Homo sapiens: one gene and its partners. The protein of the gene in region 4 interacts with the protein of the main gene of each other region in a biochemical or structural test. Each region holds a gene or a part of one and is shown on either strand. Other genes may lie near its edges.

Region 1 (5,938 bases), on a different chromosome or scaffold from region 4:
AAATAAACCAACACACCTATAGTCAATTGGCTTTCAATAAATATGCCAACACTACACAATGAAGCCAGTCTCTTCAATAAATGGTGTTGGTAAAACTGAATATACACATGCAGAAGAATGAAACTGGATCCTTATCTCACACCACATATAAAAATCAACTCAAAATGGTTTAAAGACTTAAACATAAGACCTGAAACTATAAAACTACATGAACAAAACACAGGGGAAATGCTCCATAACACTGGTATGGGCAAAGATTTCTTGGATATAACCCCAAGAACACAGACAACAAAAAATACATGGCGCTGCATCAAACTAAAAAGCTTCTGCATAGTGAAGTGAATGATAGAATGAAGAGACAACCCATGAATTCGAAGAAAATATTTATAAATCATACATCTGATAAGGGGCTAATATCCAAAATACATAAGGTACTGAAGCCACTAATAAGAAAATGAACTCAATTAAAACATGGGCAAAGGATGTAAACAGATATTCCTAAAAAAGACACAAATGGCCAACAAATATATGAAAAGATGCTCATCATCACTAATCAGAAAAATGCAAATTAACACAAGGTATCACCTTACACCTGTTAGAATTACTATTATCAAAATGATAAAAGTGTTGACAGGGTGTAGAAAAAAGGGAACACTTGTGCACTGACGTTGGGAATGTAAATTAAAACAGCCAATATTAAAATCAGCATGGAGACAGAAAACTAAAAATAGAATTACCATATGATCCAGCAATCCCACTTCTGGACATATAGCTAAAGGAACTGAAGTCAGTGTGTCAAAGAGGTATCTGTACCACCACGTTCACTGCAGCATTATTCACAACAGCTAAGATATGGAAGCAATCTTAATGTCCATCATCATATGAATGAAAACAAAATGTGGCATATATACTCAATGGAATACTATTCAGCCCTATAAAAGAAAGAAATCCTGTCACTTGTGACAGGAACCTGGAAGACATTATACTAAATGAAATAACCCAGGCACAAAAAGGTAAATACTATGTGATCTCAGCTATCTGTGCAATCTAAAAAAAAGGTGAATTCATAGAAGTAGAATGGTGGTTACCAGAGGCTGGGAGAGAGAAGTGGATGGGAAAAGGGGAGATGCTGATCAAAGGGTACAAAATATCAGTTAGACAAGAGGAATAAACTTTACTGATCTATTACACAGAATGGTGAGTATAATAAATAATGCATTGTACATTTCAAAAATATTAAGAGTAGATTTTAAGTGGTTTTTTTACCACAAAAAATGGTATGAGGCAATAAATTTATTACATTGATTTAATCATTCTACACTGTAAACATATATCAAAACATCACATTGTACTCCATATATATAATATACACAATTATCAATTAAATTTTAATAACACAAAGGACAAAAGAAAAAGTGGCATAGTTTTGAACAACTCCCATTTAAAATTAATTCATTTCAAATTAAACTATTCAACTAGTGAATACCTATTGCCAGGCACTTATAAAATAATGTTGGCTCTTTAGTACTTAGTAAATTTATTTTGATGCATGACCAAAATAAAAGGGAAATTTAACATGTATATCATATGAAAATAGGTTTTAGTGAAGAAATAAAAACTGAGTTTGATTTTAAAATCCATGACACTATAAACAAACTACTACTTCCAACATAAGCTAAAGTTAATTCATAAAGAGTTCTATGTACTGGTTAAGAAGACCCCAGAAACTAAGAAATGAACAACTTGATATACACTCATTTTTTTTTTATACATACATCTTTAATGATAAAAGAAGCTGAGATGCTATGCACCAAAAAATTCGTAAGGGTATTGTTATTTTACTTTTTTCAAAAATAATCCAAATAAACTATAGATACAAATTCTGCGGCAGGGCAACCTAACTTATTTCAGGGACAGATAATTCTAGTGTACTTAAGATCTGTCTAAGTATTTAACATTCCTGTAAGCATTATAAAAAAGAATAGGAAAAGAATGAAGTTGTCTGTTAAAATGTTAACAGTAGTTCTCTCTGAAAGAAGGGATTGTTGAGAGTTTTTTACCTTCTTTCTTATAGAGGTATAACCTATACTTATGAAGTCAGAGAAAGAAAAAATATTTAAGGGTAAAGTTATGTATTTTAAGTTTTGCATACTGAATGGTAAGGGATGTAGATTTTATTCTTATTGTGAATGAGAAGTGTTGAAGGATTTTAATCATCGAGTTGACGTGTCATGAACAAATACTTGAAGCAACCCTGGGTACCGAAGCCTAGAGACTTTGAGTACATTTGAAAATTGCTTTAAGTGCATGACTAGACAGCATAAACGAGTGATTGCATATGTACTCTGCATTATTTTGGACATGTTTGGATCCTAAGTTAAAGAAACAATCAGATTGTGAAATAAGACTTTCTAACTAGAGTCACCTAAAAAAATGAAAGGTTAATCTATCAAATCATGAGCGCTTCAATGATATGGATGACTAGCTGTGAGGGGTATTTTAGCAAAATAGAAGTTTAGATCAAAAGCAATGTGGTAAAAGTGGGTTTGGAGTCAAACTTGGATCTGATTCCCAACTCCAACATATAGTGTCTGTTATTTACCCCCAATGTGTCATTTTAACCTCTAAACCTCAGCTTTCTTGTCTATGAGGACAACACTTACCCCACAGAATCATTGTAGTAATTAATGCTAATGCATGACCCAGCACAGATGTTGAAAACAGAAGAGCCTTATTATTATATACTCACTCCTATTTAAAGATCCAATGATTCAATGATTAAAAACAATAACATGATTGGTTTGGCAGAATAATACCAAACATAAAAAGTAATACATCTGGACCAAGCACAGTGGCTCATGCCTGTAATCCTAGCCCTTGGAAGGCCGAGGTAGGAGAAATGCTTGAGCCCAGGAGTTCAAGACCAGCCTGGACTTTGTTTCTACAAAACAATTAAAAATTAGCTGGGCATGGTGGCACACACCTGTAGTCCCAGCTACTCAGGAGGCTGAGGTGGAAGGATCAGTTCAGCCCAGGAAGTCAAGGCTGCAGTGAGCTACGATCACTTCACTACACTCTAGCCTAAATGACAGAGCAAAACCACTTCAAAAAAAAGTATTAGATCTGGAAAACTAGTCTTTACTTATCTGTATACTAATTGGTAATACCCAGGAACATCCTTTCCCAAATGAAGATCAGCACTGCTGCTCTGGCCAGGCCAAGGAAACAGATGAAGGGAAAGAACATAAGAAGAGTGGAATACAGAAGACAAGAAGGTGGGATAAAATAAAGATCTGAGTCCCAAACTGCTGCCTTTATCTAGGTGAATAAATTTCAACAAAAGAAGAAATAAATGTGCCAGAACTCTTAGGCTTTCTAGTTAAAAGGCTAACTTCCTTATTCAAAGAAGATTCAAATAGCTCAAAGTTGGAAATACAACTGGTGCTCAATAGGTACTTATCAACTGATAAATGTACATTTTACATCCTAGCCTAATGGTAAAGCTATTACGGAGATAACAGTGTCAAAGTCGGCTGGATCATCAAACATATTTGTTAACTTTGTTCCTGAAGTAAGAGGTATATTTAATTCCACTACATGAGCCCAAAAAAGTATTATGAAATCAGAGATCTTGCCAGGAATATCCCATGCCCTTCCCACTCATCCATCCCCTATTTTCACACGCTTAGGGAAGAAATATTCTATTCATTTACAATAAGACATCCACTCCTTGCATAAAGAAAAATGAGTACATTGATCAAATATGATGAACAATAGAATGTACTGCTGTGAGGACAAGGACTTTTATCTTTATTGTTCACTGTTGTCTCTACAGCATCTAGAAACATATCTGCCACATAGCAGTTGCTCAATAAATACTTGCTAAATGAAGGAATGAATGACTCTTTGAAGAAATAATTTTGGGCAACCTAAAAAAAACTGTTTTCAATGTTGATGTTTTTATTAAGGCTTTGGAAGAGTCTTATTATTTTACATAATAATTTTCCCAACTACTTTTATGGAATACCTCAAAAGAAAGAAAATTTCTTTTACATTATAGAACTGATGATACTGCCCTAATTGAGCCAAACATAGAAAACTTTGGAAAAAACTTTCTATAAAACAGTTTCAATATAATTTTATTAGCAGTTATTACATCAAAATTCACATTTAGAGGATCCAGAGGACTGTCTTAGAAAATTCTAAAGCATATTTAATTAGGTTTTAACAGTAAGGGAGAACTTAATATAACACAGCCCTTAAAAAGTCAAGACTACTACTGAAAATTAAGTGCAGTTCTATCAAGAACTAGAAATGAACTGCACGCGTAGTGTCACTTAAAGCAAAGCTTCATGAAAATATAATACACTTCTATGAATGTATCAGTGGCAAACATCATTGGCTTCCAAAAAACTGACACTAAAGGAATTTCCAATCAAAACACAAGCACAGTGGCTTTCATTCAATATAGAGCTATGATAAGTCTATCAAGAGACCCTGAATCCTTACGTACTTGTAATATGATTTTATGCTGTGACACTAGTACAAAACACATCAACTCTAATGCATAGATGACGACACATGATAACACGATACCAAGGAAAGCCTTTTTCTATATCAGAAAATGCCAAGTTCTCCAGTACTGTGTAGGCTCGTCATTGCTGATCCAGTGAAATTCTACGTCCTCCAGCTTGAGCAGTATTATAGGATTCACAAATCTTACATTTCATGCCTAATATATGAAACTGAACAGTGGATCGTCCATTACAGTCATTGCAGAGAATCTGAAAAGAGATTAATTCAAATTAAGTATTTTAAACCTTATAAATACAAGTAGCATTGTCTACTCATAATCCCTTGAAAATCATATTAAAGATGTGAAAATACATACATAAGTCTAAAAATTTCCAAAAGTAGAAATTTCTTCTTATTTTTTCACTGAAAACTCTAAAAAGCTATTAAGGTGGCTCTGAATTCAGAAAATGAAAAGGCAGATTTGAGCAAAAAAAAAGCTTATTTTAAAATAGTTTCCAAATATTAAATAGTATAAATAGTACAAGCAAGAAAATTAACCTAGGCATAATCAGATGAATACCTGATACTTATAATTCAAAATAACAACATGATTTCATTATTTTTCAGTCAGAAATGTATCTCAATTAATAAAACCAAAATTTTTACACAAATAATATTTTTGCTTATTTTTTAGGTTTAGTATACTGTTCCCTGTCTTCTCTGCCTTAGGAATGAATTAAATTCCAAAAAGAGTGTTCCTAAAATTGAGTAAACAGAGAGGCTCTTCGCTCATCCCTACAATAACAATAAGATGCCGTTTAAGAATTAATTTCTTCTAGTGCTAAGTAAGAACCTGAAAAATAACAAAGGTGTTAACCTGAAAATCAATACATTACTATGCAAGAAAAGCACTAGTTTTTGAATAGTCACACTATAATAAGCAGAAAATTTCCAAATTTGCTCTAAATTATAATTTGGAAAATAATTATTTAAAAAATATGATCTAAATGGAGAAAGTGGATTAGTGGTTGCCTAGGCCTGGGGCGTTAGGGAATGACTGCTAATGGGTATGAGTGTTTCCTTTTTGGGATGATAAAAATGTTCTAAAATTGTGGTGATGTTTGCATAACTACATGAATATTTTAAAAAGCACCAAATTGTACAATTTAAATGAATGAACTATATAATATGTGAATTGTATCTTAATGAAGCCATTATTTCCAAAAATTATCTACATGGAACATAGCACACTTCGGCCTCTAGTCAATCACATGATTATCGGTTAGTATTCCAAAAGTGATTTTTCATTGCCCTAACAATTATCCACATGAATTATGAAACACTCCAGTGTAAATAAAACAAAAAATAATTTTCATTTGGCTTTGCTACGTGGTTTTTATCCTCGTATGCTGAAGTATCTGAA
Region 2 (5,011 bases), on a different chromosome or scaffold from region 4:
TAAAAGAAATATACCTAAACCTTCTACAGAATAGACATTTAGACATAACCTTCACTTTCTGGAAAGGCAGGCGCTTGCCTTTTCCTTCTGTTTTGTGTAGGATCATCATTTTTAACTGCGCTGTCCCCCAGCTGTCAGCAATACTAGCTGACCCTGGGTGAGTGTAGAGAATCTAGAAGGAACACCTTAACCTGATGGCCATGACAAGATGACTCTGCAATACCTACTACTTGAGAAAAACAAAGCATGAGCTATTGTTGTAAAAGAATTTTAGTGCTCTTCCTTTTGGTACACTGCTTTCATGATGACCTGGGAGTAGTGTGCATCCCCTGTGCTAGAGTTTTTAATATTAAAGCAGAAGTAAACATCAGTAGCAGATAACACTTTATTACAATAATGTCTGATTTCTTTCTCTTTTTTTGAGACAGAATCTTGTTCTGTCGCCCAGGCTGGAGTGCATCTTGGGTCATTGTGGGCTCAAGCGATTCTCTTGCCTCAGCCTCCCGAGTAGCTGGGATTGTAGACGCCCACCAGCACGCATGGCTAGTTTTTATATTTTTAGTAGAGACAGAGTTTCACCATGTTGGCCAGGCTGGTCTTGAACTCCTGACCTCAGGTGATCGGCCCGCCTCGGCCTCCCAAAATGCTGGGATTACAGGCGCGAGCCACCGCACCCAGCCAATAATACCTGATTTCTAACTGTGCCACAGGCTCCCTGCTCTTCACTAGAAGTGCTATTTATTATGGATTATGAAAAATTAGCTTCAAAGTAAATTAAACCCATCCTCTTAACATACAAGGATATGAAAGATGATGGAAAGATATCCTAGAACTTAGAATTTTATGCAAATATTCTGTAAAACATATTTTGGTAAAGGGCTAGAACACTCAACCTTGGCACACAATCTTCCTATTTTTAAATTAGACTTCGTCCCACAATTTGTCTTAAAAGTTTCTATAAATACACATATGTATGTAAAAAGGGGGGCAGACTTCTCCTGTATGCCTAAGCTTAGAGCTAAAAGAAGCAAAGATGACATAAGGCAAAATACAAACATAGACTTTATTAAATGCTGCTCAATCCCCCAATGAAGATCTTTCATTACAAAACAGTTTTCCACACAACTGCAAGTTAAGAGATTGGAATGGTACTCTGATAACAAAAGATGTGAGAAATACTTGACCAAGTAAAAACATACAAGACCTCTATATAGTCAACCTTTTCAGAGCTCTACAGAGGAAGCCTACTGCAGTTCCTTTAAATAAAGCCAGGCAGTGACAACTAGTGCTCTGTATCACCACACTGTGGGACTCAAAGCCTCCATCCCTGGGTCAGGAGGGACTAGGTGAAGGACAGGTTGTGAGGACTGGAAAGGCCCTGCCTTCAGCCTTTGAGAGGAAGAGGAGGAATGAATTGAGAGGCAAGCTGGGTAATTCACCTGAGCTGCCTCTACCCATCTGTTACCACTCTGGAGAATTGCAGAGGAAGGGGGATATTCATGAGGAACAATCTGAAGAATTTTGGTTTACTTTCCCAGCTTTTATTTATATTTTGTGCTTTAAAAAGCCTGGAGATTTAAGGTTTTGCCTAAATTCCAGAGTACAGTAATGTATTTATTGAGGGAGGGGTTAGGGCAGGTAATTCCCCCCATCATATTTCTGGGTGAGACAAAGAGAAGGGTAAGGATGATACCTTAGTTTTATTTTAGGAAGTATTTTTTCCTAGGATGTAACTAAGGTTTGCAGCAGTGTGAAAAGCACATTATAAAAGGGAAAAATATACAGAGCAGACTACCATATCTATGTGCAACACAATCAAAGAAGAATTCAAGTCATAATTCTTACCACTCCCATAATTATCTCACTCATATCATAGATGATAAAATTCATTCATTTCTGTGAAACTTCAGAAGTGACACAATAAATCCAATGATTAGACAAAGGTTACAATATACTATGGCCATGATACAGCACAGGGCTACGTTTAGTCCATATATTTTTCCATTTACAGTTGCCAGAAAAAATTGGCCTTTTAATTATATTATACTGATGAGGTTTGTTTTGTAATTTTTACATATTTCAAAAAAGCATACAAAACTCTGCCTATCCGGCAGAGGTGGGAGGCTTTTTTTTTATTCGGCACTTGTATTGCTGAGAATACTGTGCATGTTGTAAGCACTATTCTGTTTTTCTAGAGCTTTCTTTAGCTTTAGCTCCTCTAATTTTTTCCATAATTCTTCACGTTCCAATTCCTTCTTTTTCTCTCTGTAGATAAACCAAAATTTTTGTAATCAGAAATTATTTCAGAACCCAAAGAGAGGTGCTGTTTGACAGCTTACTGGAGAACACATTACTTACCCACATTTCACTTAAATCCCTCTGCTAAAGCTTTGGAGTCCACTTACCTGGAGCACCTAATTTCTTCTTGTCACTCTCCTAAATGTACTGAGTCTGTGCATCTCCTGTACCAGCTAGACGTTACTACTTGCTTTCTGTCCCCTACACATTATCACTACCATGACACTGTACTTTATAGTCAACAAAGTACTTACACGTCAATTTTCTCACGTAAACATCTTGCAGTTGTAGTAGTCTAATCAGTATTACAAAGGCTGAAGGGGCTGGCCACTAGGTCAGTAGGAAGCACTTCCTTCACCACACCAGACAGAAGCCACATCATTTTTGCCACTAACAGCCACATCTCTAGCCACTAACCAGTTTGTATCTTACTAGCTCCTCTTTTACATGTCAAATGAAAACTTTAGTTTCAGTAATCTTTCTCTAGAACAAAATGAAGGTCAAAATATTTCATATGTCGTTTCAACTAATTAATTTCAGTTCTAAGGAAAACATTTCTGAGTAACTTGAACCTGTCTATTCTGAAAGGCTCCATGAACATGTAAAACATAGGCTTATAATTCTGCAGTTATGAGTTAAAAGGACAAATCCTTTTAAAGGATTTGCTGATTTATGCAGGTAAGAAATGATGAGTATATTCTTAGTCATGTGAAATACATATTTTTCAAATACAAGTTTCCTATGATCCTAGTCATCTTATTTTCTTCCCATTGCTTCCTGAGGCTCAAAACATGTACTTAATTTCTATTCCTGCCTGAATGCTGCTATTTAAAGGAAATAATGCATTGAGTTAGTTATTAATGGGCTGGATGGCTTTGAAGAAAGGCTATCCATTTTCTACTTTAAGATAACCATAACTAGGAACTTGTCAAAATAGATAGCTTTTCTAAACAGAACAGGTAATATGCTTATTAGAAGTAAATGGTAACTGTTATCCTCAAATAATGGGTGGGCTCAGGTACACTGGTTACTAACCACTTAAGTTTAAGAAAGTGCTTCTTGAGTTTGAAATAAACATATGAGAAGAAAGTAACTCTTGAAAGATTATTTTATAGTAATTTATGAAATTCTCAAAAAGAGGTAATCACTAGGCCATGTTCCTAAAGGCTGATACGTGCTAACATTTATACTCTAAAATACATATTATTGCAAGGACAACATATTAATAGTACCCTAAGCCATATCATTATGTGACTTCCCTCTTCCCAAAGGAGAACTATGCTGACTTTAAAATACCACCTTCTGATAATCCACAGCGTAAGAATTACCTACTGCTAACAAAGAACACTTGAAAAGTAAAGCTCACTCTGGAAGCCCACGTGGACAAAAAGGATTTTCGTAAATGCATGGATAAAAAATCAAATTGTACAAATTGATATTTAAAATTCAGCATAAATTATATTTCATATGCAGATGCTAACAGACTGAGGAAATCTAAGGCTCAGAATGAGATAAACAGGATTTATGATCCACATTAAAATCATAATCTAACCATTTAGAGGAAGTAAATTATGTAACTACCCTCAAAAATAAATGCTACTGCTTTTTCTGCTTTAACAAATTTATAAAAATACTGGGGCTAGTTTATCTGGAAATGACTTATATGTTAAGAGACTTTCACATTGTAATGTTTACTATAAGGTAATTAACTTCTTAAATATGAAAATCTGAACTGAGAGAAGATACCTTCCTGAACTGAATCACATTCAACTAACATAAAATGTATAGATAATTTTGTAATTCAAAATATCAAATACCTCTGTCTTTCAGCTTTGTATGAGCTAGTAAGGTCATCGAAAAGCTTGCCATTCATTTCCATTAGGGTTTTCAGCACATTGTATACCAGTGCTACAATGGTCCTGAAATGAAAATGAGCCAGTCCTGAGTTATGATACTGCTAACAGAGAGGAAATGTAACACTATGGTCTCTAAAATGGGTTAAAGCTTGGCTGATTTCATTTAATCCATTTTAGAGATGATAAAACTGAGGCTCAAGAGGTTTGTAATATGCTCAAGGTCATACAGCAAGTGGTGGTAGAGACAGTCTAAGAAAACTTAAATCTTTTCCATTTTATCATGCTTACATTAAACTCTAGTTAAAAATGTTCACTATAGTTATCTTCATTTCTGCTTTACAGTCTCATGTCTGAAATCCTGAGTAACAACATTAAAAGAAGATGAAAAAGATCCAATTACCAAAACTTATGAAAAGTAGAAAGCCGGATAAGGATGTTAAAGAAGTTAGAATATATTACCCTTAGCACTTCGGCTTTCCCCTGGGACAGTGCCATTTATAGAGGGGAGACTATACACTGAGAGTAGACCAACACAACTCTGCATTAACGGAGTAGTTTGTGTATCCTCTGCAAATGTTCAGTTGGTCTCCCCAAGAGGGTTTGACCACAACCTCCAGGGAGATTTGCAATTTTAAATTGACATGAAGGCTGGGCACAGTGGTACATGCCTATAATCTCAGCACTTTGGGAGGCCAAGGTGAGATGATCACTTGAGCCCAGGAGTTTCAGTCCAGCCTGGGCAATATAGTGAGACTTCAACTGTCCAAAAAAAATAAAAATAAAAATTCGCTGGGTATGGTGGTGCACACCTGTGGTCGTAGCTACTCGGGAGGCTGAGGCAGGAGGATTGCGTGAAC
Region 3 (8,067 bases), on a different chromosome or scaffold from region 4:
TGAGGCTCAGAGAGGCTAGTTAACTTGCCTGTGATTACACAGCCAGTAAGAGTTGGGCCCAAAACACAGGGCTGAGTCCAAACATGTTCTTTTAACCTCTGTGCTACACAGCATTTGACTACTGAGCTGGGCTGAAATGTGTGTGCTTCACCTGTTCTGCAGGAGCCAGGGAGCAAGGGTGGTAGGCCTGGTTCCTCCATGCCCACTCACACCCACACACTAAGGCAGCTGGATCTCTCTTAGGCTCATTCTTTGAAAGATACGTCTGAGGCATCATGCTGAGTGCTGTAGGGTGGGTGGAGGGGTACAAAAAAGAATAAGCAGCTTATGGTCTAATAGATTGGAGATGTATGAAGATGGGTCAGCTTTGTTCAAGGGGTTCATGTCTGGGGTGTGTGCAGACACCTCAATGTTGTGTCCTGCCTGCACCCTGCCCCCGGCCTATTTCTCTCCACCCCATGCTCTCAGCCACTGATAAGGGTCAGTGTGGCCAGCTGGGTTAGTATACAGCAGGAGCGTGCTCAGGCCAAAGAAGGAACTCCTTCCCCCTACTGCATGGAGCTGCTCTACACCACACCTTTCTTCCTCCCCACCTCCAAGAAGCCTTCCCCCTACTCCAGCCCACACAGAGCTCTCTTCTCCCTGAAATCCTTTTGCCCCCATAGTCACAATAACTCGATTTAACACTTCTCACTGAAGGGGCTTGGCTGCTATTGAATTGCACAATCTCAGAGCTGGAAGTGATTTCCAAGATCCTCCAGTCCTCATTAAAGGCTTGAATTTCTTTTGCAACATGCCTTACAGGAGGTCACCAAGCCCCTGCTTGAATGTTCTCAGGGGTTGGGGAGCTTTCGGCTTCACTAGGTGGCCAGTTTTAGTGCAATTGCTCCATGATAAAATTCTTCCTTGTTTGGAGCTTCAGGTGGCTTGCAACTTCAGCCCATTGCTCTCGTGCCTCTGGTCCATATGGACAAGTTGCATCCAAGGCATCCAAGTTGCATCTTCATTTGTTTAAGATCCATCTTGCTTCTCCATCCCTCATGACTCCTCCCTTCCATTGTTAACTATCCCAGTTCCTGCAGCTGTTGGTCTTGGGACATGCCTTTGAATCCACTCCCAGTATGGGTTGCATTTCCCTCTAAGAAACACTAGGATTTGTCATGGCCCCTCCCAAGCCTGATGCTCATGACTGAACCAGATCCTCCAGGATAGCCCTGTCAGTGCCAAGCAGTCTGCACAGGTCTTTTAACAAGATGGAAGGTCACATGAGCTGCACATGGATGATTTGTGTTGAGCTTGCAGTCAGACCTAAATCCCCAAGTCTTTTTCACATTTTCCCTATCCTGTCCCTGTGCAGTTGCTTTTTTTGGCTCGAAGCATAGGAAGAGATGCTGGGCAGGCCAGGGCTCTGAGCCAGCTGCCAGGTTCCCAAAGGAGACTTCAGACTAGTGCTCACTCTTTGTAACAGTTCAGGGTTTTACCCCCATCCCTGTCTTAGTGCTTGTCAACTGAGGTGCTCTTGGCATTTTGAGTGGGACAGTTCTGTACCTGTTAGCATTCCTGGGCCTTACTGATTAAATGCTGAGTAGCACCCTCTTGTCTGTGCGCTATTTGTGACATCCAAAAATTGCCTCCCAGTCTTTCCAGGTGGCTGTGAGGGGAGAGTGGTGACTCCCTGCACTCCAGCATGAAAGCCTCCGGCACACCTTTGACCACTTTAGCCAGAAACCAGTGAGCAGCTGTTCCCTGATGCTTTTTCTTTAAGCCTCCTCACCCTGGTTCTGACCTGAGCAAAGGCCCTCCCAGGCCCAACCTCTGCACCAGCCTGATGAGGTGAAAGATGGAGCATTCTCACGCTGAATTAGTGTGTGTTTGGGGTGACTTCCTAACCAGATTCTAAACTCTTTGGAGGGGCTGAATCTCCTTCTGCGTAGATCCCTCCACCCACCCCAGCTCCGCACAAGGTAGATTCTAATTGATTGATTCAACTGGACAGAGGATATTTGCAACAAAGATCTAAGGGAGCCAGATAAGACCTCTCCCTTCTCCTGGCATCTGCTAACTTTACTTTCATCTTTTCCTTTCAGGAGCCCCCCAAGGTTGCCAAATGCACAGCCAAGCCTAGCAGCTCGGGCAAGGATGGTGGAGGCGAGAACACTGAGGAGGTAATGAATGTAGGCGTAGCCTTAGATGTGGTGCAGGTGCCACCCGCAACTCCATGATGGCTAGTTGGGTAGGGGATCCCAGGGGGTGAGGCAGAAGGGAAGGCTTCCATATCCTGGGAGGGACCTGGACAGCCCATCCAGACTGCCCTCAGGCAGGATTTACCTTTGGTTGGTATAGACCAAATACATTCTCTAGTTCTTCAGACTCCCCAGAGATTCCTATGAAAGTTGTTTCTCTGCTTACCAACTTGGAATGTTGAGAATTCCTTTTTCTTAGGGCAAAAAGCGGGAGGTTCTGGGATCCTGGGCAAAAGGGGAAAAGTCCACAGACACTTGATGGGGTAACAAGTGACTTCAGCATGGCTCGGGTGGGGCAGGGGATTGGGAGGGGCTGGTGTCCCTGAGTTGGGCCCAGCTGGGCCCACTGCCCTTGGTCCTGATTGAATGGCAGCATGACTAAAAGACAGTCCTGAGCAGAGTTCAGCGCAGCTTAGCAATCTCGGGTTATAAAGCAATAAACAGCAAGCCGAGAGAACACCAGAAGAGGGAGAGACTTAAGGAAGTACACAGTATGTCCATGAAAGTTTGGGAGTGTGCACAGTGGGATGCTCTGGATGGTGAAAGATCCTGTGAACATACACAGCGAGCATCCACCACATCCTACCTGGAAACTGGTGTTTGGTGCTTTCTCTGCTTTCTCCCTCTGCTCTAAACTGTTCAGAGGGATGAAAGAGAACTGGAAACACAGCTCTCTAGTTATGGACAGGTCTTATGGTTTTTTGGGAGAAGAGATTGATGAGCAAATGTTTGGGGTTAACTATGCGTTTAGATGTTTCTCAGTACTTCTGGTGATAGGTCACCTCTAAAGAGATACAAGCACTTTTCACACCTCATTTTAGGCCTCATTTAAGTAATGAGAAGCTGAGTAGGTTTTCCCCATTTTATAGGCATGGAAGTTGAGGACCACAGAAGAGGAATTATTCTTTCCTCTGCACTTATGCAGTATTCTACTTTTTTTTTTTTTTTTTTTTTTTTTTTGAGATGGAGTCTCTCTCTTGTTGCCCAGGCTGGAGTGCAATGGTACGATCTCGGCTCACTGCAACCTCCACCTCCCGGGTTCAAGCAATTCTCCTGCCTCAGCCTCCTGAGTAGCTGGGATTACAGGCGCATGCCACCATGCTTGGCTAATTTTTTTGTATTTTTAGTAGAGACGGTGTTTCACCATGTTGGCCAGGCTGGACTTGAACTCCTGACCTCAGGTGATCCACCCGCCTCAGCCTCCCAAAGTGCTGGGATTACAGGCGTGAGCCACTGCACCCGGCCCTTATGCGGTATTCTAAATATCTCCTTAATAATCCTTATCACTCAGCTCTGTGACGATTTGTCCCCATCTGTGTCTCTCCTCTCAGACTGTGAACTCCAAGGGAAGGAGCTATGTTATTCTGCATTGCTTCTTTCCTACCTCTGTGTACTTGTGCAGTTGGTTCATAGTAAATGCTTCTGGGAAGACACACTATGGGCTCAGTCTCCCTTTCAGGAATGATTATAATTGTGGGACCCACAGGGAAGGTGGTTGGAAGCTGGTAACTTGACATTTAGAGCAGCAAGAAACAGGATTTTCTAAGTCCTGAAAATCCTGGGAGAGGAAGGAAAATTTAATGGGGAGTTCCCACCTTTTGCCTAACTCCTACTTCTTTAGTTCTTAGATGGGATGTCGTTTCCTTAAAGCAGCCTTCTTTGACCACCCACCCCTATCCCCAGGACCTCGCGAGGGCTTCTGTTAGTTGCTGTTTTGGCACTCAGTACCTGGTAGCGCTGGTAGCACCTAACCACAACTGTCATGAAATAATTCCTTGTGAATTCATTGTTTTATCGGCTGTCTCTTGTGTTAGCACGAGAGCTCCATGAGGCTCTCATTCACTCCTGAAGGGCCTGACACAGCAGAAGCACCCAGCATTTGAATGTATTAGTGAGTGAATGAGTGAACGAGTGAATGAACAAATGCACCAATTTCACATTAGAGCTGAAAAGGACCTTAGGGTCTAACGTTATCAGTTCATAGATGGGAAAATGAAGCCTGAACAGGTTAAGGAGTATGCTGAGACCAACTGCTATGATTTATCCACTGCCTTTCAAACAAATATGCCTAAGACAATGGGTCTATTACAAGCAATCTGGGAAAGGAGGGTGTTGAGTTCACCTTGGGCTGTTTGGTGAAACGCTGCTCAGGGTTCACAGGTATGAGATGGCAGCAGGAATTATCCATGATTTTGTAGAAATGTACCCACGTCTGGTATGGCAGGGGTATGGGGAAAAGTTGGAGCTAGGATGTGAGGCTGTGGTCTTCAAAAGCTGTTTGGCACAGTCCTTCCCTTGCCCTTTTTCTTTTGAGATGGAATCTTGCTCTGTCGCCCAGGCTGGAGTGCAGTGGCGCGATCTTGGCTCACTGCAAGTTCCATCTCCTGGATTCACGCCATTCTCCTGCCTCAGCCTCCCGAGTAGCTGGGACTACAGGCTCCCGCCACCACGCCTGGCTAATTTTTTGTATTTTTAGTAGAGATGGGGTTTCACCATGTTAGCCAGGATGGTCTCGATCTCCTGACCTCGTGATCCACCCGCCTCGGCCTCCCAAAGTGCTGGGATTACAGATGTGAGCCACCGCGCCCGGCCCCCTTGCCCTTTTCTTGTCCGGAATTTTGGGCTCTTCTAGCCAGCTTTGCTCTGTCAGGCATTTGCCAGAGCCTTTCTAATTGATCTAATAGTTATAGCAGCTGACATTTATTTTATAGAGCAGTTACTTTGTGTTAGTTTCCTAGGGCAGCCATAATAAACTACTACAAATAAGCCCGGCATGCTGGCTCACACCTGTAATCCTAATGCTTTGGGAAGCTGAGGTGGGAGAATTGCTTGAGGGCAGGAGTTTGACACCAGCCTGGGCAACATACAGAGACCCTGTCTCTACAAAAAAATAAAAAATAAAAAATTAGCTGGATGTGGGGGCATGTGCCCCTGTACTTCCAGCCACACGGGAGGCTGAGGCGGAGGATCGCTTGAGTCCAGGAGTTCAAGGCTGCAGTGGGCCATGATCGTACCACTGCACTCCAGCCTGGGTGACAGAACGAGACCTTGTCTCAAGAAAACAAAACAAAACAAATTATTACAAATTGGGTGGCTTAAAACAATAGAAATAGGCTGGGTGCGGTGGCTCACACCTGTAATCCCAGCACTTTGGGAGGCTGAGGCAGGTGGATCACCTGAGGTCAGGAGTTTGAGAGCAGCGTGGCCAACATGGTAAAACACTGTCTCTACTAAAAATACAAAAATTGGGCTGGGCATGGTGGCTCACACCTGTAATCCCAGCACTTTGGGAGGCCGAGGCGGGTGGATCACCTGAGGTCAGGAGTTCAAGACCAGCCTGACCAACATAGTGAAACCCTGTCTCTACTAAAAATACAAAAATTAGCCAGGCGTGGTGGCACATGCCTGTAATCCCAGCTACTAGGGAGGCTGAGGCAGGAGAATCGCTTGAACCCAAGAGCCGGAGGATGCAGTGAGCCGATATTGCACCATTGCAACCCAGACTAGGCAACAAGAGCGAAACTCCGTCTCAAAAAAAAAAAAAAATACAAAAATTAGCCGGGCGTAGTGGTGGCGCACCTGTAATCCCAGCTACTGGGGAGGCTGAGGCTGGAGAATTGCTTGAACCCAGGAGGCGGAGGTTGCAGTGAGAGGAGATCGTGCCATTGCACTCCAGCCTCGGTGACAAGAGGGAAACTCTGTCTCAAAAAACAAAAAACAAACAAAAAAAGAAATACATTCTCTCTCAGCTCTGGAGGCCAAAAGTTGTAAAATTAGTGTCGGCAGGGCCATGTCCTTCTGAGGTTCTAAGGAAGAATCTGTTCCACATCTCTCTCCTAGATTCTGGTGGCTTTTGACAATCTTTGGCATTCCTTGTAGATGCATCACTTTAATCTCTGCCTCTGTCTTCACACAGCATTCTCCTCCATGTGTCTCTGTCTCTGTCCAAATTTTCCTCTTCTAAGGACACCAGTCATATTGGACTTAGGTTTCACCCCAATCCAGTATGATCTCATTTTAACTTGATTACATCTGCAAAGACCCTGTTTCCAAGTAAGGTCACATTCACAGATTCTAGGTGGACATGAATTTGGTGAGGGGAGGGGGTAGGGGACTGGATACTGTGCAACACTATGTACCAGGCACTGTGCTAAGTACTTTGCATACATTGTCTCATTTAACCTTCACAATACTCCCCTGAGATTCCTTTATTATTATTATTCCCATTTCACAGATGAAACTGAGGCTTAGAAATGTTAACTGGGCACAGTGGCTCACGCCTGTAATCCCAGCACTTTGGGAGGCCGAGGAGGGCAGACCACCTGAGGTCAGGAGTTCGAGACTAGCCTGGCCAACATGGTGAAACGCTGTCTCTACTAAAAATACAAAAATTAGCCTGGCATGGTCCAGCTACTTGGGAGACTGAGGCAGGAGAATTGCTTGAACCTGGGAGGTGGAGGTTGCAGTGAGCTGAGATTGTGCCACTGCACTCCAGCTTGGGGGAGAGAGCAAGACTCTTGTCTCAAAAGGAAATGTTAAGTAGCTTTTATTCAGCCAGTAAGGCAGTAAGGCAGAGCTGGAATTCAACCCAGGTCTGTGTGACTCTGGAGTCTCTTGTGGTCTTGAATGAAGTGATACTGCTGGCTCTAAGATTCTAGAAGTGAATCCTAGAATGGAAAGGAGCCTTGGGAGATCAGGTGAGACCCCACTGACCTGCCTCTGCAGGTAAGGGTCTTTCTTGATCTGTCCTTGGAAAAAAAAATTCAATGTCCTCACGCCTGTAATCCCAGCATTTTGGGAGGCCGAGGCGGGCGGATCACCTGAGATTGGGAGTTAGAGACCAGCCTGGCCGACATGGTGAAACCCCATCTCTACTAATAATACAAAAATTAGCTGGGCATGGTGGGGCATGCCTGTAATCCCAGCCTGTTATCCCAGCTACTCGGGAGGCTGAGGCATGAGAATCGTTTGAACCTGGGAGACAGAGGTTGCAGTGAGCCAAGATCACGCCATTGCACTCCAGCCTGGGCAACAAGAGCAAAACTCCATCTCAAAAAAAAAAAAAAAAATTAATGTCATAGACTCCTCTACGTGCTGAGCCCTGTCCTGAGTCTGGGAGTAGGGACAGAGGGAGGAATAAATTTTCCCACACTTCAGCTTGTCCTCTCTGAGGCCAGAGTTGTTACTCTAAAAACCTTCTTGGTCTTATCAGTCCTCTACTTAAAAACCATTTTTGGCATCTCACTGCTTACAAGTTAAAATCCAAACTCACTAGCATGGCACCCTCAACCCCTCTGAGCTGGCCCCACTCTTCTTCTAGCACCAGTCCTGCCTTTGTGTCCCACCGAACTTTTTCTTTCTTTTTTTTTTTTTTTTTTTTTGGAGATAGGGTCTCACTGTGTTCCCCAGGCTGGAGTACAGTGGTACAATCATGGCTCACTGCAGCCTCAACCTCCTGGGGCTCAAGGGATCTTTTCCCCTCAGCCCCCTGAGTAGCTGGGGCTGCAGGCACGAGCCACTGTGCTCAGCTAAGTTTTGTATTTTTTGTAGAGATAGGTTTCTTATTATGTTGCTAAGGCTGGTCTCGAACTCTTGGACCGAAGCAATCCTCCTGCCTTGGCCTCTGAAAGTGCTGGGATTACAGGTGTGAGCCACTGTGCCCTGCCCAACTTCCTATCTTCTGATATGACAACCCCTTTATGACTCAGGGTGCTCACAGATGCAGTTCCACTGGCCCGGACTGCTTTATTTCTCCTGTGTCTTTTTTTGCCTATTAAACTCATGTTTATTCTTTTTTTTTTTTTGAGACGGAGTCTCGCTCTGT
Region 4 (2,578 bases):
TCCCTTCCCTGGAACTTTCCAAGGGGCCCTTAGAATTTGTATTCAGCTCTCACAGGCTGAGACCAGGGTGACATCCTGGGAAACCTGCCTAGTGATAGCCAAGGTGTAGCTCCAGATGAAAGGCACACAACTTTAAATATAAAAAAGCCATTCAGGCTAGGCTCAGTGGCTCATGCGTGTAATCCCAGCACTTTAAGAGACTGAGGCAGACAGATCACCTGAGGTCAGAAGTTCAAGACCAGGCTGGCCAACATGGCAAAACCCTGTCTCTACAAAATATATAAAAATTAACAGGCATGGTGGTGCATACCTGTAATCCCAGCTACTCAGGAGGCTGAGGCACAAGAATCGCTTGAACCTGGGAAGCAGAGGTTGCAGTGAGCCAAGCCTGCACCACTGCACTTCATTCAGGCTGGGCAACAGAGTGAGACTCCATCTCAAATAAATAAATAATAAAGCCATTCAACTAAAGAACCGATTATCAAGCAGAAGCACAAAGCCCAGGTTCCATCAGGTTTTTAATTGTACATCAGTGACTGTGAAAAAGCAATTATTCCCATAATTAAAATACAAACTATAAAAAAACAGACTCAAAGAAAAGAAAGATGACAGAGTGAAAGAAGGTACATTTCTTTCGTGTTCAAACCACGGAGTTCACAACACAGCAGCACACACAGCTGGGCGCTTTGTGGTCTCGGCACCCTCGGCTTCCCCTTCACGGGGCCGCTTTCGACTAGTAGAAGGCTGAAAATAAAGGAAAATGGAGAAATGTTCAAAAGAAAATCACTGGCTTCTTTAAGATTATCAAAGTTCCTCAATATGCTTCCAGTAAAGTGGGGGCATTTGATGTGAAATTCTAGAACCAAAAATTACTGGTTGTCATCATTGACAACTGAGTCCTCACCACAGCCCCCAACTCAGACATGCTTATCTAATAGATATTTCTCTCCCTTATGGCTTCTGACCTCTGAACGATGTATACTGAAAGCAAGTAGCATAACCAACTTCCTCTTGATCGTCCTCTTCTAAATATCAAGTTTAAAAGGACTATAATACCTCTCAGTTGAAGCCCCAAGTCTTGGTCTTTTGCGGGAAGACAACCTTTGTGCCTTAGTTGTTTTCCCATATATAAAATTGGGAGGAAGGCTGGGTGCGGTGACTCACAGCTGTAATCCCAGCACTTTGGAAAGCCGAGGTGGGCAGGTCGCTTCAGGTCAAAAGTTCGAGACAAGCCTGACCAACATGGCAAAACCCCATCTCACCTAAAAATTCAAAAATTAGCTGGGCACAGTGGCGGACACCTGTAATCCCAGATACTCGGGAGACTGAGGCAGGAGAACTGCTTGAACCCAGGAGGCAGAGGTTGCAGTGAGCTGAGATTGCACCACTGCACTCCGGCCTGAGTGACAAACCAAGACTCTGTCTCAAGAAAAAAAAAATTGGGGGGAGGAAACAGTGGGAAAAAGGACAGCTACCATTCAACAACAACAACAACAACAAAAAAGCAGGACTGGAATTAACTTATACTCACAAAGAACTTTAAAGAATAAAATTGTAATCAAGGAATCAACTACTGACCCAAATTTTAATTTGTTCAACAAATTTATATTTGAGCCTCTAATAGAGTCTTTCGAAATTGCCTTGCAGGTGACCTTTTGGATGACAATCCCTAGCTGTGCTTATCGGTCTATTATGTGTTAGATATTAAACATATCCTGCATTTTTAAATCTAAGGGTGCTGGAGCGAATCAAGTTAAAACAGAGTTTCTACTACATTATAACTGAAACAATGTTAAGCAATTGCTACTCAGGAAAATCTTGAATTTCATCATCTTTGCTTATCAGCTCCTTAAGCCCAGACTACATTTAGTGATCATCAGGAATACGAATACCTGGGCTAGAACCTGGGGTAGAGCTGTGGATTCATTTTCCTCAGACAGAAGATCTTGAAACTTTCTCTTCATGTCTTCATCCTGTGAGGGAATTAAAAACATAAGTAGCTGTGTCTGAAGGATAATAAACTCCTAGAATGACAGGGCTAGCATGCCCCTGTGGAAAGAGGGAGGAAAAATGTCCGTCCAAGAATCATCCCCTTGATGAAGCTCCCACAGCGAAGGCATTATGTGTTGCCCGCCTCTACCTTCCCAGAGGAGTCTAATTAGCAGTCAATGCTCCATCAATCCTGGCTGACTCACATCCACATGCCTAAAAGCTCTCAGTGGGTCAATCACAGCCTCCAGCAGTCAAGAGTTTCTTAATTAGTATCCAAGATCCTGAGAAAGGTGGCAATCAGGAGGCCAGAGGCTGGGCCTGACTCCGTGCAGCTCCTCAAATCCTTCCCGGACCACTCTCCACCTGCTGCCCCTGCCATGAATGAGGCCAGTCACCCAGACTGTCCTAACAACCAGCCCAGCACCCTAGGAAAATTCACCCAGCAGATGCCATACAAATTTTCAGAAGTACTTAAGCCCACAGTATCCCAGAGCTCAGGTCTAATGAGAAAGGGAGACAATAAACAGAACCAAGTATTTTGTTTCTGCTGCAGGAGCGGGAGGTGAGGGGTTTCATGCTGCAGGAG

What was found.
Region 1: of the proteins of CHEK2 (region 4) and RCHY1, one has a biochemical effect on the other in vitro, tested with the Homo sapiens proteins (one study listed by BioGRID).
Region 2: the proteins of CHEK2 (region 4) and PPP2R5A form a complex in vitro, tested with the Homo sapiens proteins (2 studies listed by BioGRID and IntAct, with this or other methods).
Region 3: the proteins of CHEK2 (region 4) and PPP2R5D form a complex in vitro, tested with the Homo sapiens proteins (one study listed by BioGRID).

What each region holds. Positions count from the first base shown.
Region 1 is NC_000004.12:75,477,883-75,483,820, forward strand, and holds the end of RCHY1 (RING finger and CHY zinc finger domain-containing protein 1), read right to left. Parts: intron 4,785-5,938; coding exon 4,656-4,784; 3' UTR 1,151-4,655; downstream 1-1,150. UniProt on the Homo sapiens protein: E3 ubiquitin-protein ligase that mediates ubiquitination of target proteins, including p53/TP53, TP73, HDAC1 and CDKN1B. Mediates ubiquitination and degradation of p53/TP53; preferentially acts on tetrameric p53/TP53.
Region 2 is NC_000001.11:212,357,892-212,362,902, reverse strand, and holds the end of PPP2R5A (serine/threonine-protein phosphatase 2A 56 kDa regulatory subunit alpha isoform), read right to left. Parts: intron 4,218-5,011; coding exon 4,116-4,217; intron 2,266-4,115; coding exon 2,133-2,265; 3' UTR 1,050-2,132; downstream 1-1,049. UniProt on the Homo sapiens protein: The B regulatory subunit might modulate substrate selectivity and catalytic activity, and might also direct the localization of the catalytic enzyme to a particular subcellular compartment.
Region 3 is NC_000006.12:42,987,524-42,995,590, forward strand, and holds part of PPP2R5D (serine/threonine-protein phosphatase 2A 56 kDa regulatory subunit delta isoform), read left to right. Parts: intron 1-2,087; coding exon 2,088-2,165; intron 2,166-8,067. UniProt on the Homo sapiens protein: The B regulatory subunit might modulate substrate selectivity and catalytic activity, and might also direct the localization of the catalytic enzyme to a particular subcellular compartment.
Region 4 is NC_000022.11:28,687,243-28,689,820, forward strand, and holds the end of CHEK2 (serine/threonine-protein kinase Chk2), read right to left. Parts: intron 1,974-2,578; coding exon 1,893-1,973; intron 745-1,892; coding exon 655-744; 3' UTR 501-654; downstream 1-500. UniProt on the Homo sapiens protein: Serine/threonine-protein kinase which is required for checkpoint-mediated cell cycle arrest, activation of DNA repair and apoptosis in response to the presence of DNA double-strand breaks.